3 separate regions of the Homo sapiens genome follow, and regions 2 and 3 are each linked to region 1. The links come from fine-mapping of genetic effects on gene expression. A gene starts in region 1. Each other region holds a variant in brackets. All regions are shown on one strand. Distances are from middle to middle.

Region 1 (10,341 bases):
TGCTCAATGAATGACATTTATGGATGATGAGGAAAGAACTCCTACAAACATGCAATGATGATAATAATCTTACATTAGATTCCAAATAATGTACTACTCCATAACATTCTGATTCTTTCAACACCAACGTAATTTTCTAAATAAATAAAAAGTTGAGTCATGCTGGGGACAGATCATTCTCAATTATCCTAAGGAATAGGATCAGATACCCTAGGTAAGACATTATTCATCTTTTTCTCAATACATATATCCACAGCTATTTTGCTGCTTAATGCAACCCAAGAGCAATGATGTGAAACATTATGGACATTAAACGTCAGACATTCCAGAATGTTCCTCAGTGAGAACCCTACAACATTTCCATTTAACAAAAAGATACTAGTAGGGAATGAAGGCTCTAGAATTTGAAAGGCATTATTTAAATACAAAAAATAGGGCTAGGCGCAGTGGCTCTGAGCCAGTGGATCACTTGAGGCCAGGAGTTCAAGATCAGTCTGGTCAACACAGTGAAATCCCATCTTCTACTAAAAATACAAAAATCAGCTGGGCATGGCGGTGCACACCTGTAATCCCAGCTACTCAGGAGCCTGAGGCACAAGAATTGCTTGAACTCAAGAGGCGGAGGTTGCAGTGAGCCGAGATTGTGCCACTGTACTCCAGCCCAGGCAACAGAGGGAGAACCTGTCTCCAAAAAAAGAAAAGAAAAGAAAAAATGAGCCAGATGTGACAGTATGCACCTATAGTCTCAACTACTGAGGAGGTTAAGGCAGGAGGACTGCTTGAGCCCAGGAATTTGAGTCCAGCCTGGGCAACACAGCAAGACCCAAAAGGTGCATAGGATAAGCACTTCTTATAAACACATACAGGATAGATAAGCACTTCTTATAAGCACTTACATACAGGATAGATAGAATGTTTATCCGGACAGTTAGGATAAAAAAGCATGAAGAAGGACTTGTTAAATGGAAATGCGGAGAAAAGGCAGTATGGAAAAAAATAAATTATTTTCACTTAGAATGGTGTATGTAAACACTGCAAATTCTCTAACACCTTAGAGAATAGCACAGAGAGGGCTCGGTTGGTCAGTAAGAAACAAGAAGCATTTTATGTAATTTATTTTATTTTATTTTTTTGAGACGGAGTCTCGCTCTGTCACCCAGGCTGGAGTGCAGTGGCGCGATCTTGGCTCACTGCAACCTCTGCCTCTCAGATTCAAGCAATTCTCCTGCCTCAGCCTTCCGAGTAGCTCGGATTACAGGCATGTGCCACCATGCCCGGCTAATTTTTTTGTATTTTTAGTAGAGATGGGGTTTCATCATATTGGCCAGGCTGGTCTCGAACTCCTGACCTTGCGATCCACCCACCTCGACCTCCCAAAGTGCTGGGATTACAGGCATGAGCCACCACGCCTGGCCTATTTTATTTTCTTAAAAATAAAATAGGAATTCAAGCTGGCCTTGAATTCCTGAGCTCAAGTGATCCGCCTGCATCAGCCTTCCGAAGTGCTGGGATTACAGGTGCAAACCACCGTGCCCAACTACAAAAACTTTCTATCACTTTGACAGTAACTATTACAAACTTAGTATCTCAAAATTATCAGTACGTCTCTGAAAACACAATGCCTTTACCAATGATTTTTAAAATCGTTCTGTGGTATTCTTTGTAAAAACTCCAAACCCCAGTCTAATCATGAGAAAAACATCAGGTAAACCCCAAGTTTAGGGGAGGGGAGTATTCTACCAGATATCTGGCAGCACTTTTCTAGACTGTGATGGTAATGAAAAACAAAGGAAGACTGAGAAACTGTCACAAACCAAAGAAAACTGGGAAGACATGACAACTAAATACAATGTGGTAACTTGGATTCTGGAACAGAAAAAGACATTAAAGAAAAATTGGCGAAATCCAAATAAAAGTCTCGAACGTTTCATAGTGCCAAAGTCAGTTTCTTAGTTTTAACAAATGTACTGTAATAACGTAAGATGTTACTAATAACTGGGTGGGAAGTATGAAGAAACTGTATCTTTGTGACTTTGCTGCGCAACTAAGATACTCCAAAATAAAGTTTATTTTTCATTATTATTATTATTTTTTGAGATGAAGTCCCGCTGCTCTTGTCCCCCAGGCTGGAGTGCCCTGGTGAGATCTCGGCTCACTGCAACCTCTGCCTCCCCAGTTCAAGCGATTCTCCTGACTCAGCCTCCCGAGGAGCTGGGATTACAGGAGCCAGCCACCACGCCCGGCTAATTTTTGTATTTTTAGTAGAGATGGAGTTTCAGCATGTTAGCCAGGCTGGTCTCCTGACCTCAGGCAATCCACCCGCCTCAGCCTCCCAAAGTGCTGGGATTACAGGCTTGAGCCACCGCGCCCGGCCTAATAAAGTTTATTTTTAAAAAAAACAACCAAGGGACAGTCACCTAATGGGCTACTACTCAGCAACACAAATAATCTACTGATAATCTACAGATAAAGACAACAGGGATGAATATTAAAAATGTGCTGAGTTAAAAGAAGCCTTTTATACCAAAGAATGCATACTGTATGATTCCATTCATGTGGAAAGTCTGGAATAGACGAAAATAATCTATGGGTTTAAAAAAAAAAATCAAGATCAGCCGGGCGCAGTGGCTCACGCTTGTAATCCCAGCACTCTGGGAGGCCGAGATGGGCGGATCATGAGGTCAGGAGTTCCAGACCAGCCTGACCAACAGTGAAACCCCTTTTCTACTAAAAATACAAAAATTAGCTGGGCGTGGTGGGCGCCTGTAATCCCAGCTGCTCGGGAGGCTGAGGAAGGAGAATCGCTTGAACCTGGGAAGCGGAGGTTGCAGTAAGCCGAGATTGTGCCACTGCACTCCAGCCTGGGCGACAGAGCTAGACTCCAAAAAAAAAAAACCAAGATCGTGGTTGGCTCTGTGGTGACTGGAAGACGATTTGAAAGGACAAGAAAAAACTTTTGAGGGTGATGGCGATGTTCTACATCTTGACAAAAGGTTTAGGTTACACAGCTGTATTTTTGTCAACGTTCATCAAATTGCATACTTAAGACTTGTGGGTTTATACTGATGTGAATTTTACCCTCTAAGATTTAAAAAATAGTAAGCGGTACTGAGCTCTATTTAATATGCACATACTAAAGTTGGAGGGGTCTCCAACTTTACTTTGAAATGCATCGACAAATAAGGTAAAATGTTAATTACAGAATCTAGGTGGAAGTATAACTCTTTTTCACCTTCTGTTTGAAAACGTATGTGATAAAACCTTGGGGGAGAAAGGCACTGACTACTCGACCTCACTTATCACCACCGATAATCATTTTCTTTTGGAGTCTTTCCTAAACTCCTTGGGGCTTATTTCTAATCATGATCAGCATCTGCACGCTCTCGTATATGTAAAAGAAATTAATGAATTATGAGGGCCTTTCTAGACAATCATGAGCCATGTTTCTGCCAACCCTTGCTGTATTTGATGTGCTTTGATGTACTTCTACTTTGTGCTTTGATGCACCTCTACATCAACCTTCGCTGAGCACAAGGCAATTCCCCCTCCTTTGAGTCCTTAGATTCCCACCCAGTCTGGGAATTCACGATAGAAACACGACGGGACACAGAACTAATATAACCAAGATGCCACCACAAAATTCAGTTAAATGTGCTGAAACATGAGGCGGTAAACTGTGTCCCCGACTGTTTCGGGTTTCTGAACCAGCAGCTTTGTCTACGAAACACACATTCAGGATACCGTGTAAGGGTTAGAACATGTTACCACCACCAACTGTTGGCAGTCAAGACAGTAGTTGATAAGCCACCCGTCTACCAATCTCCCTCTTTCTGCCTAGGAACCATGGCGCGGACGGAAAAACGAAGCCATGGTGACTAATCCTCAGGCTCCAGGAGGTGACTGGGGTGAGTGAAGGCGACTTGACCCAATCAGGAGCGCCGCAGGGGCGGAGCAGCAGCCTCGAGGCTTCCAGAAGGGGCCAAAAGCCTCTCGCTGGCTACCTGACACCGGGGCTTCCCCGCCGCCAGGCCCCAAGTGGCGTCAACTTTCCTCCACCAGAGGGGGACCGCGCTCCCCGCGCCCCCCAGGAATCCGACTTCCTCCGCAGCTGTCACCAGAGGCCGGCGCGGGGCCCGCCCCGCTCCATTCATAACCAGGACCCCAGCCGTTGCAGCCCACAGCGCCGCCCGCCCGCCGGGCTTCGGGAGGCAAAGGTGGCGGCGGCGCACCGCGGAGTAGGGGCTGCGGGACCCCGGCCCCTCAGGGCTGCGGCCGGGCCCCCTCCCCGGAAACAGCAATGCACCACGGGAGAGGGGTGGGGGCCGCACGCCGCCAGGAGGGGACGGCGACCCCCGGCGGCGAGACCCCCGCGCGCTCCCCCACTGGCACACGCCCCCTCGCCCCAACTGCTGCGGCTCCGGCTCCGCCAAGCGTCCAGCAGCCGCCCGAAGGTCCTGAGGCGCGGCCCGCCGCCCAGCCCCGCCGCCGCCGCCGCCGCCGGGGGCACAGACAGCCGCCGCCGCCATGTTCGAGGCGGCCGGCCGCGGGGCGCTGCGGGGACGTCTTAAGGGCGGCGGGGCCCAGCCGGAGCCCCCCAGCCGCCCCCCAAGGCCAGCCCCGCGTCCTGGCCCCTCCCGCGCTCCTCGGCTCGGTACTCACGTGAGATAACGGCCCAAAGAGTCGGGTAAAGCGTCTTCTCTTTTTCGGCGGAATTTTTAAAGAGGGATGTGGTTACCTTGAGCAGAAATACCCAAGGCGGCCTGGGCCATAGGCTGCGGGAACGACTTGGGGGTAAAAGCGCGGCACCGACACCAGCTGTGTGCAGCAGTGGCGGCGGCGGCCGAAGGAGAAATAGAACAGCGCAGGCAAAAGAAGAAAGGCGCGGGCTGGGTGGGAAGAGGATTCGGACTCGTCACACTGCAGAGCAGCAGAGCGAGAAAGGATGAGAAGAGGCAGAGAAGGCGACGGCAGAAGAAAAAAGGAAAAACTGCGGCCGCGATCAGAGCCTGAAAGTGTGAGAAGGCGGCGCCAGCGACGCCAGTATTTATATTAGGGGGCGTGGCCTGGTGACATCACAGCTGGCCGGGCAGCCGCGCGAGCGGGGCGGAACCCGGTTGCAGCCCGGAGAAAAGGGAGGGGGACGGAAGAGGAAGGAGGACTGAGCCCGGGAGAGAGAGGGGAGGGGTCGGCGCGCGACCGGGTCATGCAGGTGCAGACTGGCCGGTCGCTTCCCGCCCTCCAGCCACCCGCAGCTCCCCGGCAGGCGAAGGGCGGCCGCGCGGGTGTGGGCCGAGAGAGGGAGGCGGCTCGGCTGGAGCGCGCCGTCCGCCCGACCCCCGCCGCCTCTCGGGCGCCTGCGCTCACGCTGCGGGGCCCAGCGCATTGTGAGCCGGGTCGAGCTCCACGCTGGCAGCGTCTGAGAGCTGTCCTGGGCCGGAGGTGGCGCGAACCCTGTGCGGCCTAGAGTGGGCCTGGGGTAAGCCTGTCGGCGCCGCTGCCGAGCCTTCGCGTCCAGCTCCCTCCGCTTTGTGAGGCCTGTAGTTTACCCTGGGGAGTGTCCTCCCGGGCTGAGGCGCCCGCCCTCGGTGATGCGGTACTCCTTTAGGGAAGCGAGTTCCTCGTGGCCAGAAAGGACCGGCCCAGTGTCCGGGTGTTAAAAAGGGTTGTGACCACGTGAAAATGTCCTCAGTGCTCGAACGTTGCAATACGGTGCAGTGGAAATTTTTTAAAGGAATATGGCTTTTATGTCTTCATTTTTAAAAGGATTGGTGGAGTCAGTCCCAAGCAGGACCCGCGTTGGAGAGGGGATTACTGATGTTACAAGCGCACATTACTTCAATCCCCTAGGTCTCATTTTCGCGGTCGTTTTAATTTTTCTACTCCACAACAGACTTTTTTTTACTAGGGGTTCTAAGATTACCTACATAGCTTTTAATTTATTTTCATCTTTTTTAGATGCCTCAGCACTAATGATCATGATCAGAGACCCCGAGTTCTCTCGTGCTGCTACGCTTCGCAACACATAGCACAAATGGAATATGTGTTGACACACCCCTCTGAAGTTAAGATCTTTGATATTAAGACCCTGACTTTTTTCCCTTTCATTCTTCCGAACCCTCTGTGTACTTTGAGCAGCACTGTGGTTGATTAATAAATCATCAAATGTGAAAGGAAGAAAGCGACCTTCCTGTGTGGAAAAGCAGGGTATCTTGCGAGGCTGTATGAGAGAGTATTCGGTAGAATCAGGAGCTGTGGACGCATTCCTGATTTTGTTTTTCCTTATTTTGCTCGGCTATATCTTGGCTCTGTCTTTTATTTCTTCAAAGTTCTGTTCTATTCAGAACATTTGAAAACACAGCCATTCACTAGACCCTCTCTGGTGGAGGAAGAAAAACTAGAGATGAATACAATATTTGAAACCTTGCTTACAATCTAGCAGGGGAAATAAGACAGCAATACAAAATAAATTGTTGGCTGATACAAATAAAATGCTGCAAGGACCAAGTGGAGGGAAGAGATGATTGCAGCTAAGTGAGAGAAAGGCTGCTGGGGAAAGGTAAAGAGTGATTTTGAGAAAAGCCTTTCTAGACAAAGGTGCTTCCTTTTTCACCAAACTCGCCTGTTTGGTGATTTTGAGAGTAGATGTTCCAGTGTTCCAGGCAAGGGAAACGGATGAGAGAAGGCACAGAAGTGGGTGGGTTTAGAGAATTGTGAATAGCCTTTCTGGTTCCAGCATAGGGGCATGGTTGCAAATGAGATTGAAACGGTAGATTAGGGTGACATCAAGAAGACATTGGAGGCTGGGCGCAGTGGCTTACACCTGTATTCCCAGCACTTTGGGAGGCCGAGGAGGGCGGATTACCTGAGGTCGGGAATTCGAGACCAGCCTGACCAACATGGAGAAAACCCGGCTCTACTAAAACTACAAAATTAGCTGGGCATGGTGGCACATGGCTGTAATCCAGCTACTCAGGAAGCTGAGGCAGGAGAATCTCTAGAACCTGGGAGGCGGAAGTTGCAGTGAGCCGAGATCACACCATTGCACTCTCCAGTCTGGGCAACAAGAGTGAAACTGCGTCTCAAAAAAAAAAAAAAAAACAAAACAAAAAATTGGAACTTGGACTTTATTCTGGAACCATATAAACAGGAACATGATATGCTCAAAAATATGTTTTTTAAAAGATTACTCCAGCACCAGTGGGTGGGATTGAAAAGAGGTAGAAAGTTTGGAAGTGAAGGAAACTCTTACAGCAGTTTTCTGGGGTCTTTTGGTTTACTTATTTATTTATTTTAGTACTAAGGGGGCCGGGCGTGGTTGCTCACTTGGTGGCCTAGTGATGGTGTGGTGGCCTAGCACTTTGGGAGGCTGAGGCGGACGGATCACTTGAGGCCAGTAGTTTGAAACCAGTCTGCCCAACATAGCAAAACCCTGTCTCTGCTAAAACTACAAAAATTAACCAGGCGTGCTGGTACACGCATGTAGTCCCAGCTACTTGGGAGGCGGTGGCAGGAGAATTGCTTGAACCCGGGAGGCAGAGGTTGCAGTGAGCTGAGATCGCACCACTGCACTCCAGCCTGTGCAACAGAGATGTACTTTGTCTCAAATAATAATAATAATAATGAAAGTACTAAGGGGATTCAGAATGGATGGGAGGGAAAACGCACAGAGAGAGTAGAGATAATCTTGACTTTCAAAGGAGATGAGAAGGTGTCAAGTGATTTGGGGATATTAAGCTTATCAACAGGGAGAATTCTGGAGCCATAAACAGAGATAGAAATAGAAGGACCCTGCCAGGAGCAGTGGCTCACGCCTGTAATCCCAGCACTTTGGGAGGCTGAGGCAGGCGGGTCACGAAGTCAAGAGATCAAGACCACCCTGGCCAACATGACGAAACCCCGTCTCTACTAAAAATACAAAAATTAGCTGGGCATGGTGGCATGTGCCCTGTAGTCCCAGCTACTTGGGAGGCTGAGGCAGGAGAATGGCATGAACCTGGGAGGCGTAGCTTGCAGTGAGCCGAGATGGTGCCACTGCACTCCAGCCTGGGCGACAGAGCGAGACTCCATCTCAAAAAAAAAAAAAAAAAAAAAAAAAGAGGGAGTAAGATGAGGCTAGGTTTTTTTGCCTTTTGTGTGTGTATGTGACAGTGTGTCACTCTGTTGCTCAGGCTGAAGTGGAGAGGCATAGTCTCGTCTCACTGCAACCTCCACCTCCTGGGACCAAGTGATCATCCCACCTCAGCCTCTGAGTAGCTGGAACTACTGGTGCACCACCATGCCTGGCTAATTTTTTGTGAAGACAGGTCTTGCCATGTTGCCCAGGTTGGTTTTGACCTCCTGGACTCAAGTGATCCACATACTTAGGCCTCGCAAAATGCTGGGATTATAGGCATGAGCCATCACACCAGGCCTGAGGCTGCTGTGATACAGAGTTTTAGCTGTTGAAGAAATAGCCAGGTAAAAATGGTCCAGAGGCCTCTGAAAATGGGGAGATCTAGAACCCTTTGGGTGTGAATTTGGGAGCCTTTCCTACAGACATGATAATTAAGGAATTATTGAGGTATAGAAGAAAAGAGTATAAGCACAGGATCTAGAGAATGCCAGAGATAAAAGACAGCCGCAGAGAAGACCAAGAGGCCGAAGAAAATGACAATAGTGCAATGCTATGCTATTCAAGGAAGAGGGTGCTTATCGCAAAACGGGATGAGTGATCAGGGTTGTCATATCCTCAAACAGGTTGGAAAGGGGATTCTGATTTTATCAATGCTATAGGAACTATATGCCATAGGACCCTAACTCTTATTTAAATCAATTTGTCTCTGGCAAAATTGGTTTTGTTATATGGTTAATGGTTTGACTTAAAGTTACAGTTTCCAAGAACCTATGGATGACATCAAATGAGGATGTACTGTATTAAGTACTATTGTATATAGTAGATTATGGCATTGTAGCATTATAGTATATTATTGCAGTCTTAACAGTTGGGAGTATAATGTGTTTTAGTTCCCTGCCAGCCCACAGAATTATTCAGATGAACCAATAAAATTTTGTTTTGAAATTCAAGGCACATCTCACTTTCTTTTTTTTTTTTTTCTCCTAAAAGACTCTCGCTCTGTTTCCCAGGCTGGAGTGCAGTGGCATGATTATAGCTCACTGCAACCTCCACCTCCTGGGCTCAAGCGATTCTCTCACTTCAGCCTCTCGAATAGCTGGGATGACGGGTGTGCACCACCATGCCTAATTTTTTTTTTAAATTTTTTGTAGACATGGGGTTTCACCATGTTGTCAGAGCTAATCTCGAACTCCTGGGCTCAAGCGATCCTCCCACCTCAACCTCCCAAAGTGTTGGGATTACAGGTGTGAGCCACCACACCAAGCGTATCTCACCTTCTTGATACTACAAAACCTTCCTCAGTCCCCTGTTTGTTCTCTTTGCTCCCAAGTGCAATCCCTGTGTGGGCCTGCATAGCTTACACTACTTTCCTCTTCTTGTCTGAGGGAATGTGTAACTAATAAACTGTTGTTGATCTTTAAAGAAAAAAAAAGTTTGGGTTTATATTCCAAAGGCGTTGGAAAAGGCTTCAATCATGGAAATGATTTGTATTTTAGAAAAGGTGAGAAAGTGGGGCTGGAAACGTAAAATACTCTTAAGTTTTTGGCAGGCAGAACATACGTGAAGCCATTGTAGTCATTCATGGAGAATAGCAAGGGCCTGGAAAGAATTTTATCTGTAACCTTTAACAGAGTAATATCAGCAGAGTAGGAGAAACAGGAAGTTGTAAAGGGTTGAGTGAGGGGCACTTGCAGTCAGTGAATGTTGACCTCTCTTTAAGTAGATGATACTGGACTAGAGCCTAAGCCAACATCATTTGCACCATGAAGCAACTCAACAACATTTATTATGAAAAGTATGTGCCCACACAATTAGTATTTTTGTATTCAGATTTAAAGAATAATGCTAGCTTTACATGAATACAATAGTGCTTTGAAAACTATACCACAGTAGGCCGGGCACGGTGGCTCATGCCTGTAATCCCAGCACTTTGGGAGGCCGAGGCGTTCAAGACCAGCCTGACCAACATGGAGAAACCCCGTCCCTACTAAAAATACAAAATTAGCTGGGCATGGTGGTCATGCCTGTAATGCCAGCTACTCAGGAGGCTGAGGCAGGAGAATCACTTGAACCTGGGAGGCAGAAGTTGCAGTGAGCTGAGATTGCGCCATTGCGTTCCAGCCTAGGCAACAAGAGTGATACTCCATCTCAAAAAACAAAAAAACAAAAAGAAAACTGTACTACATTGGAATAGACAACATAGTGTAACTTTAATGGAAGGATAGCTA
Region 2 (9,997 bases), 200 kb after region 1:
TATCAGACATTAATTTTAAATGCAGTATTCTGGTTAACATCCTTGTAGGTGAAGGGTGATTTTAGTTAAGTAACGAAGTTCTTTTCAGTAAGACTTTTCACTTTCTTGAGGCAGATTTTTTCAATGCCTCAATCTTTTATTGAAGCAATTTGTATTTAAGCTATTGGAGAATTGGTGTGTTCTAGGTGTAATGGGAAACGAGTGGAATTGTGAAAATCAAAGATGGTGTTAACTTTCTTGCCATCTTCAAGTGTGGGATTACTGTGAAGACTAAAAGCTTGTTTGGAAAGGGAAACATAATGAGTGAAAATGTGTTTCTCTTAATAATGTAAGAGGAAATTAAGGGAAATATTGAAAATTATTTCCAAGTACTTTATAAGCCATATCATCTCAACTAGGAGGAAACTCATTCTAACCAAGTAATGTCAAAATAACCAGCTTTTTAGGGCAAACCCAAAATCCTTTTAAAAAATAGATATTTTGACAAGATTTTCACTTGTTTTGCTATCCTTTTGCTTAAATTAATTGTTTGGTACATCCAAATGAGCCTAATAATGTTATCCAAGGAAGTGTTAGCTGAATCTTTTAAGTATGGAGAGAGGAGGTATTTGAAATCCGCTTAATCCTACTAAATATTTGAAGTTTAAAAAGAACTTAACGCTATACAATTTAGAATGTAAAGAGGTTTTAGATGTCTAGACCAACTCCCTTTTTTACAGATGGGAAAACTAAGAGCTAGTGCTGTTAAATGACTTGCCTACATAACTGTTTATCTTTGTTACTAAGAAGTTGTTTGTAAGTTGAATTTCATTTTACATGTATTAAATGTTTTAGAGTGTTGTGTAGTAAATTCAGATCTTTATATTTTGATTTTCCAACCTAAGGCATTTCTATATTTTGTACCATTTTAACTACTTTTATTAAAATATATACCTTTTTCTGTGTTAGTGAATTGGTTCAATGCATTTTAGTGTCTGTTGAGATCTCTCTGTAGTGGCGAACCTTTTAATCTAATTTAAGATAAGGTATCTGAGATAATGAGAATAATAGTGAAACATGTAGAAAGTGAATTATGCGACTTAATTCTTCTATAGATTCCTAATAGGTAGTCACTTAAAAAAATATTTGGTCTATCTAATTGCTATTTCTAAGACCAAATTTGTGGTAATTTTTTTTCTTTTTATAGGGACCACTTGTACGGTGGCTGAAAGTGAATTTTAGTGAAGCATTTATTGCATGGATTCACGTGAAAGCATTACGGGTTTTCGTTGAGTCTGTTTTAAGGTAAAGCAAGTTAATTGCCAAACTTGGAACTGAAGAGTTCATAGATTCCTTACATTGGACCTCTTTATTATAACACAGTCCAGCAATAGGAAATTGATTTGGAGAAATCAAAGGGCCAATCATGAGACAGAGATTATCAGTATCATCATACAGCTTATAAAATGCATATTAGTCTTGTTCTTTAGCACCAGGTTTAGAAAAAGAGATTTATGCTGCCATACCCTCAGGTTCTTTTTCTTGTGTAGGTACTTAAAAGTAGATTAAATATTAACCAATATTTGTTTAAAAGGAAGATCCTTCAGGTGTTTTATATGTCATTGGATACATAGTATGCTAATGACTTATTGAAATCATTTCATATTAACCTAAAGTATTTTAATATTTTGAGATATTTAAAAAATCATATTCTGGTCCAATGTATGGGTTGCTCATATTAGAAATAGTTTTAAAAAACCCAAAACTTGGCCGGGTGCAGTGGCTCACGCCTGTAATCCCAGCACTTTGGGAGGCTGAGGCAGGCAGATCACGAGGTCCGATTGAGACCATCCTGGCTAACAGGGTGAAATCCTGTCTCTACTAAAAATATAAAAAAATTAGCCAAGTGTGGTGGCACGCGCCTGTAGTGCTGGCTACTTGGGAGACTGAGGCAGAGAATCACTTGAACCCAGGAGGTGGAGGTTGCAGTGAGCCGAGATTGTGCCACTGCACTATTGCACCACTGCACTCCAGCCTGGGCAACAGAGCGAGACTCCGCCTGAAAAAACAAAACACAAAACAAACAAAAAAACACCCCAAAACTTACATGTAACCATGCTCACTATTTTTAAATTTTTTCAAATTTTCAAACTATATGTGGGTAACCTCATGCTATTACCATAAAAGTATCTGCTGACCTTACTTCTTCTTATTTCCTGAGGATATTCATATATTACCTTAAAAATTGAATGGTAAGCCAGGCGTGGTGGCTCATGCCTGTAGTCCCAGCACTTTGGGAGGCCAAGGCGGGCAGATCATGAGGTCAAGAGATTGAGACCATGCTGGCCAACATGGTGAAACCCCGTCTCTACTAAAAATAGAAAAATCAGCTGGGCATGGTGGTATGTGCCTGTAATCCCAGCTACTCAGGAGGCTGAGGCAGGAGAATGGCTTGAACCCAGGAGGCGGAGATTGCAGTGAGCCAGGATTGCACCACTGCACTCCAGCCTGGCAACAGTAAGAATCCGTCTCAAAAGAAAAAAAAAATGAATGGTAATTGAAGTAATTCCTAGTAATTGGCGTAGAGATTTCTAGTGGACAGTGGGGACCAAAGGTTTGCGTTTCTGTTTATATTGAAGTTTTTTGTGTATATTAGTTTCAGTTTCTATATATATTAGTTGAACTTGTAAAGGTAAAGGGAGATATTCTCTCCCCGTTAACCATGATTAAAGAGTATGAGAATATTTGCTTTGAAAAGAAAATCTCTTTACATGTTTGCTTGTATTGCGTACTGTATTTCTGCTTTTTTGTAAGGTATGGCTTGCCAGTGAACTTCCAAGCAATGCTACTTCAGCCCAATAAGAAAACTTTGAAGAAACTGAGAGAAGTATTACATGAATTGTATAAACATCTAGACAGCAGTGCAGCAGCTATTATTGATGTAAGTACTTATTAGCCCAGTAGAGTAAGAATTGAAGTGAATTTCAGAAAAAAAATGATTGAAAGAAGATAGACAGAAAAGGGAGGGTAAGTATGAAACTTAATCATTTTTTATTACTTTGAGGTTCTCAATTTGTTATGTAAACATAGTAATTTACATTGTTTACCCTGTTTTATACTAATTATATCTGTGTTTTGCTTCTTGGCATTTCTACAAGCTAGTAATTATCTTGCTGTGTATCAGATGTTTATAGCTGCAGAAATACAGAAACCAGTGATACTAGTTATTTACAAAAACTATAAATTGCAGAGAGGAAGAAAATAAGCAGTTATTTTAATTTTATTTGGTAGAAGCGATAGAGTCAATAGATGAGTATTTTCAAGGTAGGTTCATTTTTCTAAAATGGCGTAGCTGGGCGTGGTGGGACATGTTGGTAGTCCCAGCAACTGAGGAGGCTGAGGCGGGAGGATCACTTGAGCCCAGGCCTTCGAGACCAACCTGGGTAACATAGTAAGATCCCATCTGAAAAAA[GA/G]AAAAAAAAAACAGACCAAAAAATGTATTATGTGTTTATATCTTCTTTTAAACAAAACTGTTATTTTTTAAACAAAAGAAGATATAAACAGAGTTACTTGTGTTTTTTTGTTGTTGCTGTTTAAAATTGTAGTGGGCCGCTGGGCGTGGTGGCTCACGCCTGTAATCCCAGCACTTTGGGAGGCCGAGGCGGGGGGATCACCTTAAGTCAGGAGTTTGAGACCGGCCTGGCCAACATGGTGAAACCCCGTCTCTACTAGAAATACAATAATTAGCTGGGCGTGGCAGCGGTCACCTATAATCCCAGCTACTCGGGAGCCTGAGGCAGGAGAATCGCTTGAACCTCGGGGGGTGGTTGCAGTGAGCCAAGATTGCGCCACTGCACTCCAGCCTGGGTGACAGAGGGAGACTCCGTCCCAAAAAAAAAAAAAAAAAAAATTGTAGTGGGCTTTTACTTTATATTTCTGGTTTTAAATATCTTGCTGATTTTTTTTTTTCTCTTTAAAAGTTTAGGGTAGATGGTAGCATCTCACATAGGCATTAATTAGAACTATGAAAAATCAGTTTTTCTTGATAGAAGGAAATGCGGGAAATGACTTGCTACACTTTTTTTCTTTTTCTTTTTTTTTTTTTTTTTTTCGAGATGGAGTTTCGCTCTTTTGCCCAGGCTGGAGTGAAGTGGCGTGATCTTGGCTCACTGCAGTCTCTGCCTCCTGGGTTCAGGCAGTTCTCCTGCCTCAGCCTCCTGAGTAGCTGGGATTATGCCTGGCTAATTTTTGTATTTTTAGTAGAGCTGCGGTTTCACCATGTTGGCCAGGCTGGTCTTGAACTCCTGACCTCAGGTGATCCGCCCACCTCGGCCTCCCAAAGTGCTAAGATTACAGGCGTGAGCCACCTTGCCCCCGGCCAACTTGCTCCACTTTCATGCAATTGTGGATAAAATGAGAGGTATAATTATTTGATACATAAATGTTCTAGCAGTAAATTCTTATAACATGCATTTATAATAAGTGTTATCCTTGCTTGTTTTTTGGCTCTGTTGCTCAGGCTAGAATGCAGTGGCATGGTTTTGGCTCACTGCAGCCTCAACCTCTATGCTCAAGTGATCCTCCCACCTCAGCCTTCCAAGTAGTTGGGACTATAGGCACGCAGTACCACTGCTGGTTAATGTTTTTATTTTTATTTTTTGTAGCGATAGAGTCTCACTATGTTGCCCAGACTGGTCTTGAACTCCTGGGCTCAAGGCCTTGGCCTCTCAAAGTGCTGATATTACAGAATAAGTATTACTTATAAATCATACTTGCTTTATTTTTACTCCATATTTTGTAAGTCTTGTATCCCATCAACTCAGTATTCTAAGTCCAAGATTTAAAAAGTTAATTTTTACAGTATACATAAAAAAGGTTGGTGGGATCATGCTAAATACATATGCAGTCAGAATGCTTGAACCTGGCTTTACCACTCACTGTCTGTGTTTCCTAGGAGAAGTCAGTCTTTCAGAGATTGTTTTCTCATTTGCAAAATGGGAATAATGTCTAACTCAGATAAATTAGCCTTAAGTGCATACATTTAGCCCAGAGTAGATGTTCAATAAAAAGGTAAATGTTAATACTTGCTTTCTTTTTTTGAGTTCTGTAAATACAAAATTGAATAATTGTCTGTTTTTTCCATAGGCTCCTATGGATATTCCAGGTTTAAACCTGAGTCAACAAGAATACTACCCCTATGTGTACTACAAGATTGATTGCAACTTGCTGGAATTCAAGTGAAAATGGGCTCCTCCCCCGACAATCCTGTCCTTGTGTTTGTGTGTGCTAACAGAAATAAGTTGCAGTATGGTCGTACTTTTAACTCTAGTATCCTTTGCTTGCTTCTTACGCCCTTTCCTAGGTGAATTCTCCCACAGTGGTCTGTATCTCAACATTTTCTTTTTAAAGGAAAAAATATATATATATAGTTTCTTTTTATTGATCAGGTCTGTAAATGTGTACTAAAAAAATCAGAGTTTATTTATAAACAAAATAGTTTATTTAAAGAGAAGGTCTCTTCCTTATTGATATCATGGTATGCATTAATTCCATTTGTTACTATTGTGCACAAAAGCCCTGTTCACAGGGGAATGGTGTAAACATTTATACTGTTTTGTTCACTGTATTTAGTAGACATAACTGTTGAATAGTTACTGAATCATGATGTAAAGAATATGTGACCATCTTCAGGTATGGGATTTCTGAACGTTTCAAATTTCAATCAATGAGCACTGTCAACACCCACAGGAGAGAATAAAATTACCTGTGCAAAGGTGTATTGTGGTGTGTGTAACTTAAGATTACAGTTCTGTTTGAGAGTTAAATGATGTCATAGCTCACTTGCTATGCTGCTTCCAGGATTTTGTTATATGCTGAGGTGTAACCATTTGTGTTGTCTGACTTTCGTATGATTTAATTGAGCCAAATTTGGGTCAGAACACAAATTTGAAGATGACTTTTCAGTATATGATGGGTATTTACATTTGAACACTAGAATTTTAGGTCTCTCAAATAATTAAGAATAGAGCCAGTTTTGAATAAAGTCTAGCAGAACTATGCAGCTTTAGTCATTTGTTTTGTCTAAGTCTGTATTTTATGTGTTGTCTTCTTAAGATCTATAATTTTGGCATTTATGTCATTTGTGACATAGTCTGAAAATAGAGACATTGTTGGCCTTTAAAATCTCAGAAATGAATGACTTAATTTAGTGTCCTGAAAGAGCTTTTAAAAGAGGATTTTGTGGCAATGTTTCTCTTACTACGTACTCACAGGTTTGCAAATGGGAAAAAAGTTTACATTTCAGTTTAGGGGCATATCTAAGCTATGCTATTCCCTTTAGAAAATTAGCCTCCAAAATCTTTTGTTTCAAAATATTATATTATTTCATAAATAATTTCAAGCAAATACAGACATCCACAATGTAGAACATGAGAGACCCCCTCCCTCAATTTCCACCTCCCAAGGGAAGTTTATGTATTTTTCTAGGCCCTTTTCTATGTCTTTACATCTCTGTCTCACACACACACACGTATACACACACACAGTTTATTTTTAATAAAATAGGATTATACCACACACATCCTGTCACTTGCTTTTTTGCTTAAGAGTATATCTAAGAGAATCCTTTGTGTCAGTGAAGCTGGAGCTACCTCATTCTTTTAACTGGCTGCGTGGCGTTCCATTGAGTGTCTGTCATCATGTGTTTAGCCGAGTGGATGGATAGTCTGCTTGTTTTTAGTTTTTGCTCTTAACAAACACTGCTGCAGTCAGCATCCTTGCACAGATTTCTTTGTATACTTGTATTAGTATTTCTGTAAGATCTGAGAAGTGGAATTTGTAGGGTCATAGGTTATGTACACTTAAGTTTTTGACACTCACTGCCAAGTCATCTGTCAGAATTCTAAACTAAAGACATGTTTGGAGTGTGGATTTATCTTCAGTTTTTCTTTGGACAAGAGGAAGCTGTGAAAGATTTTGCTATCAGAAAATTTTGGTTCTTTGTCTTTTGCACATGTTCTTTGAGTCTTAGTATCTGTAACGTGGCGCTACTCTCTCTATCATGGGGGGGCATGTTTTGACATTAAATTGACTTTTAAGAAAAACATGTCACTAACCTGAAGCTCAGCCACACAGTGACTTTTAAGGTTTTATTTAGACTTTACTGTTGTTCTCATGAGAGTAGGTACAGACTGCATAAGGTTTAGAATCCCAGCATATGTCTGAAACGACGGGACTTTCACTGTGATTTCCACCAGAGAAATTATAGCAGAGTGGCTGAGCATGTGCTCTGAGGCCAGGCCCCAGCTCTGCTGCTGACGAGCTGTGTGGTCCTGGGCAGAGTGGTCTCCGAGTTCCAGTCCCTCCTCTGTAAAATGGGCATGATTAGAGTGCCCACCGCATTAGGGATGTTGGGGTGAGTCAGTGTGACCCCACGTGCACAGAAAGTGCTGCGAGTGGTGCATGGTGAGAGGTTGATGCAGGTACTTAGCCCTTGGGGAACACAGGTAGTTCCTTTTCACTGTGTTTAATTTGGGAAAATCCAGATCCACATCATTGTAGAGTCTGAGGGTTAGAAGGAAGTCATTGTGTCTAACATAACAACAGAGCAGTTTGTGTCACTGAGCTCCAGTCTGTGCTGGATTATTGATATTGTTGGTGGCGGTCACCATTCCTGGAAAGGGACTGTCCCAAGCCACTTACCTTCCCGAGGAGTCTGCTGGTTCTCCTTGAGGATAGTGCTTAGATAACAGACTCATTAAACATTTACTGAGTGTCTGTCAGGGATCATTCACATCCACATCATCCTCCCGGCCCCTCCCCGTGTTGTTCATGGAGGGAGTACTGGCGGTCCCCATTTTCATGTATGGAGACTTCAGGTGAAAGAAGTTAAGTGAATTCTTTGTTGAGTCACAAATCTTGAGCCAGTCAGAATTTGAACCTAAGATTTTTGACTGCTGGTTGTCACACTTCCCGCCCCACACTCAACTGTTGTGTGAATGAGCCAGACACATTGCTTAACCTGAGTCCGAGATGGACAATGGTATAGGAAAGATATTCGGTATGGAGAATCAGATGTTAACTTGTGTTGCTATTTTTGTTTTGTTTTGTTTTGTTTTGTTTTTGAGACAAGGTCTTGCTCTGTCACCCAGGCTAGAGTGCAGTGGCATGATCAGGGCTTACTGCAGCCTCACCCTCGATTTCCTGGGCTCAAGCAATCCTCCCACCTCAGCCCCCAAGTAGCTGGGCCTACAGGTGCGTGCTACCACGCCTGGCCAATTTTTTAAATTTTAGCACAGATGAGGTCTCACTATGTTGCCCGGGCTGGTCTCGAACTCCTGAGCTCAAGGGATCCTCCCGCCTCAGCCTCCCAAAGTGCTGGTGTTACAGGCATAAGCCACCACGCCTGGCCTGTGTTGCTATTATATTTGGCAGGAACCCAGAGTCCAGAACATTTCATCTATGATGGGTTAGATAATGTGTCTAGTTGTTTGCATGCCAATTTCAGTAGCCTCAGTTATTCAACCTAGGAGATTTTTCTACCTCTTTACTACCCTGCTGAAGTTGCTCTTCAGCAGAAAATCTTTGTGGAACACATTCCACACTTTGAAATCTTCGTGGAACAAAAGATATTTGTGGAACCAATCTTTGTGGAACATATTCCAGCTTTTTGAATGAGTGCATATCCAGTAGTACCTTTAAAGTAACACTTTGTACATAACAAATACTCAGCAAATGTGAAACTTTATTTGCTCTTACTTCAAAATTAGTCCAAAATGTTGGAAATAAAATATAAGACATTGATCTAGATATGAGGTTTTTCTCCTTCATTCTCAGCTGTCGAAGAAATCAAAGTAGCATATGCACAAGGTTAAAAACCACATATACAAATACTATAGAACAGCTTATAATGAAAACCTTGCCTGCCTTTATAAAAAATGTGATTATCTTCTTCTGTTAATGTCAATAAAAGATGGTTTGTCCTAGAAGGTCTATAAATGGTATTATGTTCTGGAGGAAACCTAGCAAAAACTTTGCTAGTTTAGTACTTGTCTCTAAATTGATGTTCACCCATTTCAATATTGCACTTATTAATGGTCTTTATTTTTCTAGCATAGATAACAATTGATTCTTTAGATTCATATATGGAGGTAATTCTTGCTTTCTAAAGAAAGGAATATGGCACATTGGAACCATTTTATTCACCAGTGGATTTACCCTTAGAGTATTTTTAGATCTGAGCTGATGACTTGTGAGAGAAAAAGGGAACAGAGTAAAGCCATGGAAGCCATGAACAGTAAGAGACTGCCGCCTGGCATGGTTTCTTCTTCTGCAGAAGATGAAACTGAGGAGAAACAAGACAACATCCTTCATACCAGGAATGGTCAAGATAATGCAAGAAGAAAAAAGCTTTCAAACAAATCAGAAGGCAGTCAACAAACAGAAAGGGGGACATTCCTTCCCTGGCAGTTACTCAAAACTGAAATTGCTTATTGTGTACACCGGGGCTTGTACTTGGGGAATTTAATAAAAATGCTCATTACCAAGCTCCAGAGAGATGTGGTTTAAAGTCTTAAGTAGATCCAAGGAATAACCTACATTTTAAACAAATACCCAGGAGAATCAGAGGCTAGGGGTTAGTTGTAATCGGATACTACCTTTTAATGATTCTTCCTCTGAACCCTCAGATTGGGGTGTTGATTTAGAATTTGTAAGCATCTTGAGGTCTCATTCAAATAGTGATTCTTCTCTATTGACAGAGACCACACTTAATAGAATCATCATGGGTAAATCAGCTTTTTCTACTGTCACTTGAAGAAATATTCCACGTCGTTAAATCAGTAGAACTGGAGAGTTCTGTCTCAGCAGAAATTGATCAATAAAGATGTCTTTTGCCCTTGGAAGGCCATAGAATATCAAGTTGAAATTTGCAAAAACTCTAAAATGATCAAGGTCACATTTTCATCTTTTAATTGAGAACTCATTGTGGACATAATTTGTCACTGCTTGTAAAGTGTAA
Region 3 (10,341 bases), 280 kb before region 1:
CACTTCTAATAAACAGCATATTGCAAAAGTGATGGATGCCACTATGAGATTAGGTTATAAAAAGACTGTGCTTCTGTTAGGACCCCCCTCACCCCACTCCTCACTCTCCCCAAGAGCAGCTGGCTGCCATGCTGTGAACTGCCCTATGGAGATGCCCACATGGCAAAGGGCTGATGTCTCCAGCCAACAGTCAGTGAGGACCTGAGGCCTGCCCACAGCCACGAGAGAGAGCTTGGAAGAAGATCCTTTCCCCATGGAGCCTTGAGATGATTGCAGCCCAGGAGACATTGCGATTGCAGCTTTGGGAGAGCCTGAGCCTAAGGTGCCCAGATCAGCTGTGCCTGGATTGCTTTGCTGCCCCACAGTGTATTCCTTTGCTAGGGCTGCCATAACAAAATACCACAGACTTGGTGGCTTAAACAAAAGACATTTCTTTTCTTTTCTTTTCTTTTTGAGACAGTCTGGCTCTGTCACCCAGGCTAGAGTGAAGTGGTGTGATCTTGGCTCACTGCAACCTCTGCCTCCTGGGTTAAAGCAATTCTCCTGCCTCAACCTCCCAGGTAGCTGGGACTACAGGTGCACGCCACCATGCCCAGCTAATTTTTTGTATTTTTAGTAGAGATGGGGTTTCACCATGTTGGTCAGGCTGATCTCAAACTCTTATTCTGAAGCAATCCACCTGCCTTGGCCTCCCAAAGTGCCAGACCTTTATTTTCTCACAGTACATTTTTTTTTTTTTTTGAGACGGAGTCTTGCTCTGTTGCCCTGGCTGGAGTGCAGTGGCGTGATCTCGGCTCACTGCAACCTCTGCCTCCCGGGTTCAAGCAATTCTCTGCCTAAGCCTCCAGTGTAGCTGGGATTACAAGCACCCACCACCACGCCTGGCTAATTTTTGTATTTTTAGTAGAGACGGGGTTTCACCATCTTGGCCAGGCCGGTCTTGAACTCCTGACCTCATGATCCACCCAGCTTGGCCTCCCAAAGTGCTGGGATTACAGGCATGAGCCACCGTGCCTGGCTGTTTTCTCACAGTTCTGTAGGCTGGGTTCCAAGATGAAGGTGTCAGGGAGTTTGGTGTCTCCTGGGGCCTCTCTGCTTGGCTGGCGGGTGGCTGTCTTCTTGCTGTGTCCTCATGTGGGCTTTTCTCCATGCGCATTCCTGATGTCTCCTTATCTTCTTATAAGGACACCAGTCCTATTGGATTAGAGGCCTACCCTTATGACCTGATTTAACCTTAATCACCTCTTTCAAGGCAGAATCCCCAAATACAATCACTTTCTAAGGTTCTGGAGGGTTAGGGCTTTAGTATAGGAATCTGGGAGGGGGCACAATTCAGTTCATAGCACACAGGAACTGAGAGATAATACAAGTTTGCCATTTTTATGTTAATTTTTTTTTTTTTTAAGAGACAGGGTCTGGCTATGTTGCCCAGGCTAGCCTCGAAACCCTGGGCTCAAGTGATCCTCCCACCTCAGCTTCCCAAATAGCTGGCACTTCAGGCAGGCGCCACCATACCCAGCTGTAAATGTTTGTTGTTTTAAGCACTGAGACTGGGGTAGTTTGGTACACAGCAATCAATAACCAAAACAAGCACCTAGGCAAGACTCTGAGAGGCTGTGAAATCGTCTCATCCTCTATGGCTGAGGCATGAGAAGGCTATGGCTTCCCTGGGCCATAGAAGCAGCCAGTAGTAAGGATTTCTTTGAAAAGAGATGTGGGTCTGCTGAGCCAGGCTACTCCTGCCCCATCTCACCCATCCCACACCCCACTGGGCTGGAAGGAGTGCTTCCACATCACCTCAACTAGTGCGGGAAGTGTTGAGAGAACACATAGAGTATCTGAAGTGTGTTCCCTGAGGTTTGGAGGAACAGGGCTGGTACCTGTCTCCCTGGGAAACTCTAAAAGGGAGAGGTTCTGCCTCGGGGTGACTCCGTCAGGCAGCAGAGCCTGATGAGAGTGAGAGGGCAAGGGGCAAGCCTGTTTCCCAGGATCCAGGTGGACACTGGCAGGAGGAGGCTGGATTTGGGGGCCCTTGAAAGGGACATGGGTGAAAGAGCTTTCTGGAGCTGTTTGACCCAGTGAAGAGGGACACTCAAGTGTTTCTCCCACCTCGACCTCCCAAGTAGCTGGGACTACAGGCACGTGCCACCACGCCCACTAACTGTTGTATTTTTTTTGTAGAGAAGAGGTCTCGCTATGCTGCCCAGGTTGGTCTTGAACTTCTCGATTCAAACGATCCTCCAACCTCACCTCCCAAAGTGTTGGGATTACAGGCATGAGCCACCAGCCCCCAGTCAATATCACTATCTTTTTTATATTTATGTATTTTTTACAACTTTTTAAATAAAATATTATATAATATGTAAAAATATTTTTCTATCTTACCCCTTCAAGATGCAGGCGGGCTGCTGGCTGGCCTGGGCTTCCAGATGTCAGCCTTACTTGCCCTTTGCCTTTTGGTGACTCTGTCTTCTTAGGGAGCTGCACGGCCTGGATGTTAACTATCACTGTCTTTCACAAGGTTCTATTTTATTCCATTGTATGCAGAGCTATGTAAGTTGAGTTGCCTGTGTGTGACTGTAAGGCTCTGGCTCTGGGAGTGTGAGGCAGAGCTTTAGACCTGACTGTGCGTCACACTCCTGGGGGGCTTGTGGAAATGCAGATCCTCACTCAACAGGGGTGGGTGAGCCTAAGAGTCTCCATTTCTTTGCTGTTTTTATTTTGAGATAGGGTCTTGCTATGTCATCCAGACTGGTCTTGAACTCTAGGCTCAAGCTATCCTTCTGCCTCAGCCTCCCCAGTAGCTGGGACTACAGGTACATGTCGCCGCACCTGGCATCTCTATTCCAACAAGTGATGCAATGCTGCTGGCCCATGGCTCACACTTGACTTGTATGATTGTGAGCAAGAAACTGGGGGCCAATGCCCAGCGATGGGAGGCTCTGAAGCACTCACCCAAATGGTTCTTGAAGAATCAGGGATGGTGCATCTGCCCCATGCCAAGTAAGGACTGTAGGGATTCAAGAAACGCCTTTCCTGCCCGTCAGCCACCTCCCTTCCACCCGCACAACCCCAAGCCAGCAGCTAGTGGATGGGAGAGGGGAGCGAAGGGAGAGAGAGAGGTAGCCACATTTCCTCTTTCACTGTGTACAAGGCCGTTCCAAGCTGAGGAGGGAAGAGCTTTCAAATTGAACCAGGATTCGGGATTTCCTTGTCAGTCTGGACTGGACTTTTTTGTTTGTTTGTTTGTTTGTTTGTTTTTACCCAAAATAAGCTGAAAAGCTGTAGAATCTGCCCTAGACCTCATACGGACAAGGCTCGGTGCGGTGGCTCACGCCTGTAATCCCAGCACTTTGGGAGGCCGAGGTGAGTGGATCACCTGAGGTCAGGAGTTCGAGACCAGTCTGGCCAACATGGTAAAACCCTGTCTCTACTAAAAATACAAAATTAGCCGGGCATGGTGCTGTCACTTAGAACCTGGGAGGCAGGGCCAGGCACAGTGGCTCACGCCTGTAATCCCAGCACTTTGGGAGGCCAAGGCGGGCAGATCACGAAGTCAGGAGATCAAGACCAACGTGGCTAACACGGTGAAACCCCGTCTCTACTAAAAATACAAAAAATTAGCCGGGCATGGTGGTGGGCGCCTGTAGTCCCAGCTACTCGGGAGGCTGAGGCAGGAGAATGGCGTGAACCCGGGAGGCGGAGCTTGCAGTAAGCTGAGATTGCACCACTGCACTCCAGCCTGGGTGACACGGCAAGACTCTGTCTCAAAAAAAAAAAAAAAAGACCTCACTCAGCCAGAGAGGAAGCAGCCCACACCATGGGTGAAAAGGCAGTGGGGAGGAAGAAAAAGCTGGCTTCCTGCAAGCCCCTGCATTCCACTGGCTTCACATGAAGGGGCCCCTGATGCCCTCAGCCTTGCCAAGGCCTCTGTTCTGTCTCCTCTGCTTCTCCCAGAGCTACAGGCCCTAAGACTGCCCTCCCTCTCCTGTCTCATCATTTTCGCTCTCTCTCTCTGTTAGATCATTCCCAGCAGCATGAAAACCTGATGCTTCCTTCCTTTACCAAGCAAAACCAAAACAAGACAAATCCTTCCTCAACCCCTTGCTGCATTCAGCCACAGTTCTCAGTAAAACTCCACAGGAAGTCCCCACATGCTCCAGTTCTTTGCTTCTCATTCACTTAAAAATACATATATATTTAAAATTGGGAAATATGTTTATAAAGGGGGCTAAAAAAAGATTTTCTTGCTCCTTGGATGAATAACAAACATCTCTGAGGCTTCCTTTTCTTAACTATAGCAAAGGATGTGGTCTTGCTGTGTTTTGAGAGCATGAAATAAAATAATTCTGTCAACCTCCACAGACAAAAGTAGGCATGTACTCAGTCATACCTACGATGATATATCATATCCTGGTAAGTCCCTGGATCACCTTCTCCTCCCTCCCTGCTCCCACCGTGTCTCAGCTCCTTGTAGGCTTCAATCTCTGGGACTGGGCCTGAGCTAAGAATTGCAAAGTAAAAATGTTATTGAGCCAATGGGCTTGCTGCCCGATGCTCATGGTAGCCAGTACTGTGGCCACAGCTTTTAAGAAAAGAAAGGCTTTATCGTGTAGCCAGGCAGCAAAGAGATAGGCTCAAGTCTGTCTCCTTGATTTGGGGTCTGGGGCAAGTTTTAAGGGGTCAGAGGGCAAAGGAAAAGATTCGGGAATGATGGATTGGCAGGGTCTGATTGGAGGGCTTCAGATTGGCCCATTTATGGTAAGGTATGTTGGGGTGGATTATAGTCCTGGATCTTCCTTCCAACGGACCCCTTGCTTCTGAAAGAGTTCCTGTGGTCAAGTTCCACTCATGTCCCAGTCTTCTTGGTTCCACAGGCAGGAGTCATGTGTTCCAGGTGTCATTAGAGGTCAAAGCTTTTTCTTTTGTGCATGCCTGGGCTGCATGACTTGCAGTCTTGGCTCTGTTATGCCTACAAGGTAACTTGACATTCTGTTATCAACAGAGTAGGCCCAATTTGGGCTGGTCCTGCAGTTACAAAATCAGCAGTCAAAAGGGCAGTAATGATCCCATAGACCATGAATTCTATCCACCAGCCCGCAGTGCACTCACAGGGCTCTGGTGATTTCTAGATCTTTCTCCCTGTTTCCATATGGTCACACCCTCTTCTTTCAGACTCTGCAGGTTCTGAGGGCTTTGATGTGCCAGCCAGGTGCTGTGGGGTTTTAGAGACTTACCCAACACCTTCCTGCCCTCAGGAGTTCACCAGAGGGAAGAGCAACGCAATCCAGACTTCACCCGGGAATAGTTGTGTGGCTTTGGCCGAGATGTTTCTCCTCCCTGAGTGCCCATTTCTTCATCTACAAAATAGGGAGAATAATAAATACTTTGCAGGACTGTTGTGAAAATGTCACGGTGAAACCTAGCTACTGGGATTCACACAACACAGAAATTGTTTTGTTTTGCCTGTTGATTAAAAATGGATCAACGTCATAAAAAGAAATGGAATTTACTTCTCTCTAAAGACACGTAAACACGTTGGAGATGAAAAATAATGTATAGGAACACACAGTAACAGCAGAGAGGCTGGCAGGAAAGCAGTTGGGGGATGCTTCAGTTCTGTTGATAAGTAAACCCCAACTTGCCATGTGAAAGCTGAAAGGTTACGTCAACCTTTCAGCTTTGGTGCCACCGCTAGGGAGCGTCGGTTTGCATGACTCTAGCTTGACTGCAAAGTGATTCTGCTTTCCCTGCGGAAGGGCAGAGACAACATAGATAATTGTCAAGAACTAAGCTCAGGCAGGAATTGCATTTTCATTTTCATTTCATTTCTAAATTTAGTTCTTAATCCATGTGACAAATATAATAAAAGAGACTGCTGAGTGCCAAGGGAGCAAGAGAAACCTGCATTTTGGTCTTTCCTTTGTAAAATACCTCCTCAAGAACAAACAGTATTACATCACAATGTTAATTAGATTGCCGGGGCTCTGGAGAGCACATTATTAGAGGAATTTATTAATATAAATCTCACGATAATAAAGGGACACTGAATATCTTGCTTTGAGAGGTTTCTTGTTTGATTTCCTGGGGGATTTCTTTTGATTCATATCTATCTGGAAATGAATGTAAAACATGAAAATATAGTTTGTGTTAATTTCTCTCTGAAATGTTTTCTGTTTTGTTTTTGCTTCTGCGGGGATGGGGTGCAGCAAGCGCCCTCGGAGCTGTACTTCTCACACACTTTATTCAGGATTAGAAGG[A/G]GGGTGTTCGCTACCCTCTAGTGGCTGTCTCTGGTCTCCTTGCCAGGTAGAAACTGCTGGGCCAACACCCCACAGAACAGGCATCCACCCACCTCCAGGGTCAGCAGAAGAGGCGAGAAGTCTCCAGGCCAGGCAGGAGAGGGAGACAGGAAAATTACTTCCCATGGGGCAGTTCCTTCTGCTCCCCAACCCCACTCCCAGGCAGGAGAACAGGCAGGTTACCAGCAGCTGCAGGAGACCCCCTGACTCCAGGCAGCACCCAAGAGGCCCCAGCGGGGATGGTAGGAGGGCTGGCCCCTCAAAGGAAGCTAACGCGGAAGCCACTCTTGCCTTGTGCCTGGGTACTGAGAGAGGAAGGAAGGAGGCCTGTGGCCCAAGGGTGCCCCTCACCTTGCTGTACCAACATGGGCATGCCATGAGGGCTGAATGTCCTCGGTGGTCTCATGTCCCATGTTCACTGTGCCATCCAGATGGGTTGCCGACAAGCCCTCCATGTGTGAGTCTGTATCTGCTGCCTATCATGGTGGGATAGGAAGGGTTGGGGAAGACTCTAAGTAGAGGGGGTGCTCCCTCTTGTGGGAGAGTCCCCAGGGACCCTGCATCCTGCCACAGACTGCCCCCCACCACCTCCACCCCCTTTCAGGGAAACGGCTATGGTTAACTGTGACTATACTTGTTATGATTTTCTTTTTAAGAGAGTGGTGTTTATTCCATGATCAGTACAGACCAAATGCATATGCACGGTAGGAAAGTCAAACCAGTCAGTGACTCCAGAGTTTGCCCAACACCGAGTCACCAGGGTCGTGATGTAGTGTGGGTTCTCATGGCATGTATAACCTCACCAACTTTGCATGATTTGAATGTAGAGAAGGGCAGTGCTGCCAGGCATGGTGGCACATGCCTGTAGTCCCAGCTACTTGGGATGGGAGGCAGGGATGGGAAGATCTCTTGAGATCAGGAGTTTGAGATCAGCCTGGGTGACATAGGGACATACTGTCTCTAAAAACTAAAAAAAAAATTAAAAAGTAAGGAAAAAAGAGAGAGAAAGTCAGTGTTGCCTCCCAACTCTTTAAGGAACATTTTTTGCCTTCGGAGAGGAGGACACTGAAGTGCAGAGCCCCCCCGTGAGCTCTGTCAGGACACCAAGGAAGCAGGCAGAGGAGAGCCCAGGCCTGGGGTTTGGAGGCTCTAGCTCAGCACTGTGAAATAGAATTTTCTGCCATGGTGGAAATGTCCTATATCTGCACATCCAACATCCAACACGGTAGTCATTTATGGCTACTGAGCACTTCTTGAGACTCTGGAGGTCCATGGATGCCTGTCCTACATGGTTGTTGGCTAGTACAGCTAAGAAACTGAATTTTAAATTATGTTTGGTTGCTATTAATTTGAATTTAAAAGGCCACACGTAACCAGTGGCTATGGTACTGGACAGTGCAGTTCTAGAGACAATGTGAGAGGGAGACCTTTGTAATCCTAGAGCTGTGTATGAGGGTAGTCTCAGAATGAGACCCATCAGCAACATTTTAAGAGTAAAATTGGTGATTAATGGTGCAAGTTTGCTAGTGAAGGCAGGCCTCAGATGAGGTGCACACATTCATTTATCCACCATCCAACAAATCTCTTCCCCGCTACCTTGGCACAATGTTCAATTAGGATTTATTGGGTCACGTGGTTGGCCTCCCAGCTAGACAGATGCTGAGGGCTGAGACCCTGCCCCATTCATCTTGGTATCCTTGGCACCACACACTGTTACCTGATGTGTTGTAGAATCTCAAAAGTTGTTGAATGCAGTCATTCATTGAATGAATGGAGCTGGGCCAGGCCTTTGGGGAGATGCACAGATCAATTAGACATAGATCATGCCCCCAACGACCTATGGTTTGATCATAATACTTAAAATACTAGACAAGAAGACTTGAGTGAAGGCACTGCATTGCGCTGGACACATAGTAGGCCCAAAATAAATGTTAATTCCTTTCCTCCCTTCCTCTCTTACACTCCCTCTAGGACTCACCCTCCAAAAATTTCTATAAAAGGGATAAAATGCTCAAGGGTTTAGAGGAGGCTAAGGTTAATTTTGTCTGGAGAACCAATGAGGGCTTCCTGGAGGAGGTAGCATTGGATCTAGCTCATCCAGATCTCTGAGCAGCATGAACAAAGACATAGAGGGATGGGGATCAGTTCAATTTAGTTTGAGGAAGGGTATATGAAGAGAAGAAGTAGAAACCAGGGTAGGAAAATCCTTTGATTCTTAGGCTACTGAAGGCTCTTGAGCATGGTATTATAAATCTGGATTTTATTACCAGAGAGACAGACATCCCTGTGCTCTCTGCAGACTCAGTTATCTAACTACTGGCTATGTGATGACCCAAGCACACGACTTCACTCCTCTGAGCTTCACTTTCTTCATCTGTAAAACGGGAATGATACTACTTATTCATTCAAAATACAAACAAGAATGCATAGTACCTATACACTGTTCTCATGGTTTTCCACGTGGTAAGCTTTTTTATATTATCACATACAAGGTTGACCTTGTATTTATTTTATGGTGTTATCCTAATTTAATTAACCACTCCTCTATTCATGGATATTCAAATTGCTTCTAATCATTGCAAAAAATTGTACATATATCTACAGAATAAATTCCTAAAGTGGCATTGCCAAACCAAAGGGTATACAAGATTTAGATTTTTTTTTTTTTTTTTTTTTTTTGTAGGCAGAGTCTGACTCTGTTGCCTGGGCTGTAGTGCAGTGGAGCAGGAGCGATCATAGCTCACTACAGCCTCAACTTCCTGAGCTCCAGTGATCCTCCCACCTCAGCATCCCAAGTAGCTGGGTCTACAAGTTTGTGACACCACACCTGGCTAATTTTTTGTATTTTTAGTAGAGACAAGGTATTGCCATGTTGCCCAGGCTGGTCTTGAACTCCTGGGCCAAAGTGATCTGCCCACCTCAGCCTCCCAAAGTGCTGGGATTACAGGCATGAGCCACCTGCGCCCGGCCTGAAATTTAGATTTTGACAGAATTACCAAATTGCTTTCTAGAAAGAGTGAATCAATTTCCACTCTCATCAACAATATATGAAAGGATCTGTTTTCTCTGCCTTCACTAAAAGTCTTACCAGAATTTTTTGGTCTGTACCAATCTGAAAGACTTTAAATTGCTATCTAATTGTAGTTTTAATTTGCATTTATTTTATTCTGAGCAGGCTTGGGCATCTTTTCAATGTTTAAAAGCCATTTGTATTTTCTGCCCTGGGAACTGCCTATTTGCAGCCTTTGGCCATTTCAATTTGGTTATTAGCCTTTTTCTTACTGAATGATAGGAATTTCTTATTTATTAAAGAAATTAGCCCGTAGAATAAGGTTGCAAATGTTTTTCCTAAATTGCCATTTATCTCTTACTCTGTCTATTTCTCTCCCAGATATTTTTAATCTATATGTATCAGATTGGCTATTCTTTTCCTTCGTGGTTTCTGGATTTCTAATCATGCTCAGGAAGGCCTTCCCTACTCCAAGAAAATAAGTGAAATCTTTGATCTATCTATATTTATTCCGGAGGGAGGAGACAGGGAATTCTGCTTTACTTTTTTTTCCACGTGGCAGTGGCCCTAACACCGTTTCTCAGGATTCCTTTGAACGGTAAGTGCCATTCAAGAGCCAGTCTGGGGGCCCTGCTTAGCGGAAGAGCAGGTATTGATTAGATGCCTGATGTATTTGGAATGCCATTTTATTTAATCCTCACCACTGCTCTGTGAGCTCTTGATATCCTTGTTTTTCAAAAGAAGGAACTGAGGTTCAGAGAGATGGAGTAAGTGGCCCACAGTCGCACAGCCAGGAAGTGGCCGTGCTGGGATTTGAATGCAGATCAGTCTGATTGCAGTCCGTGCTCTTTCTGCGAGCCACAATCATGATTCAAAGGGAGAAGCGGGGCTTCACGGAAGTATTGAACGGGTGACTTTTCAGACTTCTCATCCTCTTCATTCCTTCCCTCCAAAGCCCTCCTGTACTGTGTTAGGAGAACTGTAAAGCACAATAACCCCTGTTTATTGGTTCCTGAGCCACTAGGGATAGTT

Alleles and levels. Positions count from the first base shown, and alleles are read on the strand shown. Sizes are in standard deviations (SD) of each study's normalised expression. Not every link is listed here.
For the expression in whole blood of the gene that starts at base 5,124 in region 1, allele A in region 3 goes with a lower level than allele G (small effect, 0.34 SD a copy in GTEx).

Evidence for each region. PIP is the estimated chance that this variant, and not a neighbour inherited with it, causes the effect.
Region 2: its variant is fine-mapped to the expression of MAILR in whole blood (TOPMed, PIP above 0.99).
Region 3: its variant is fine-mapped to the expression of MAILR in whole blood (GTEx, PIP 0.98).

Annotation. Positions count from the first base shown.
Region 1 is chr8:102,859,148-102,869,488 of GRCh38, forward strand. MAILR (macrophage interferon regulatory lncRNA) reads left to right here and starts at 5,124. Exons shown (of 3, transcript NR_126339.1): 1 at 5,124-5,476. AZIN1 (antizyme inhibitor 1) reads right to left here and starts at 5,016. Exons shown (of 12, transcript NM_148174.4): 1 at 4,660-5,016. RefSeq lists enhancers at 3,160-3,893, 5,362-6,094 and silencers at 4,243-4,472, 5,133-5,482.
Region 2 is chr8:103,063,528-103,073,524 of GRCh38, forward strand. It overlaps ATP6V1C1 (ATPase H+ transporting V1 subunit C1), which reads left to right. Exons shown (of 13, transcript NM_001695.5): 11 at 1,187-1,284; 12 at 2,794-2,920; 13 at 5,125-9,524. The coding sequence ends at 5,220. Among named protein-coding and RNA genes, the nearest start is that of ATP6V1C1, 47 kb to the left of the region's middle. The variant GA/G (reference allele first, on the strand shown) is at 3,452.
Region 3 is chr8:102,579,670-102,590,010 of GRCh38, forward strand. No RefSeq gene overlaps it. Among named protein-coding and RNA genes, the nearest start is that of ODF1, 33 kb to the left of the region's middle. RefSeq lists enhancers at 3,956-4,455, 6,336-6,565. The variant A/G (reference allele first, on the strand shown) is at 6,261.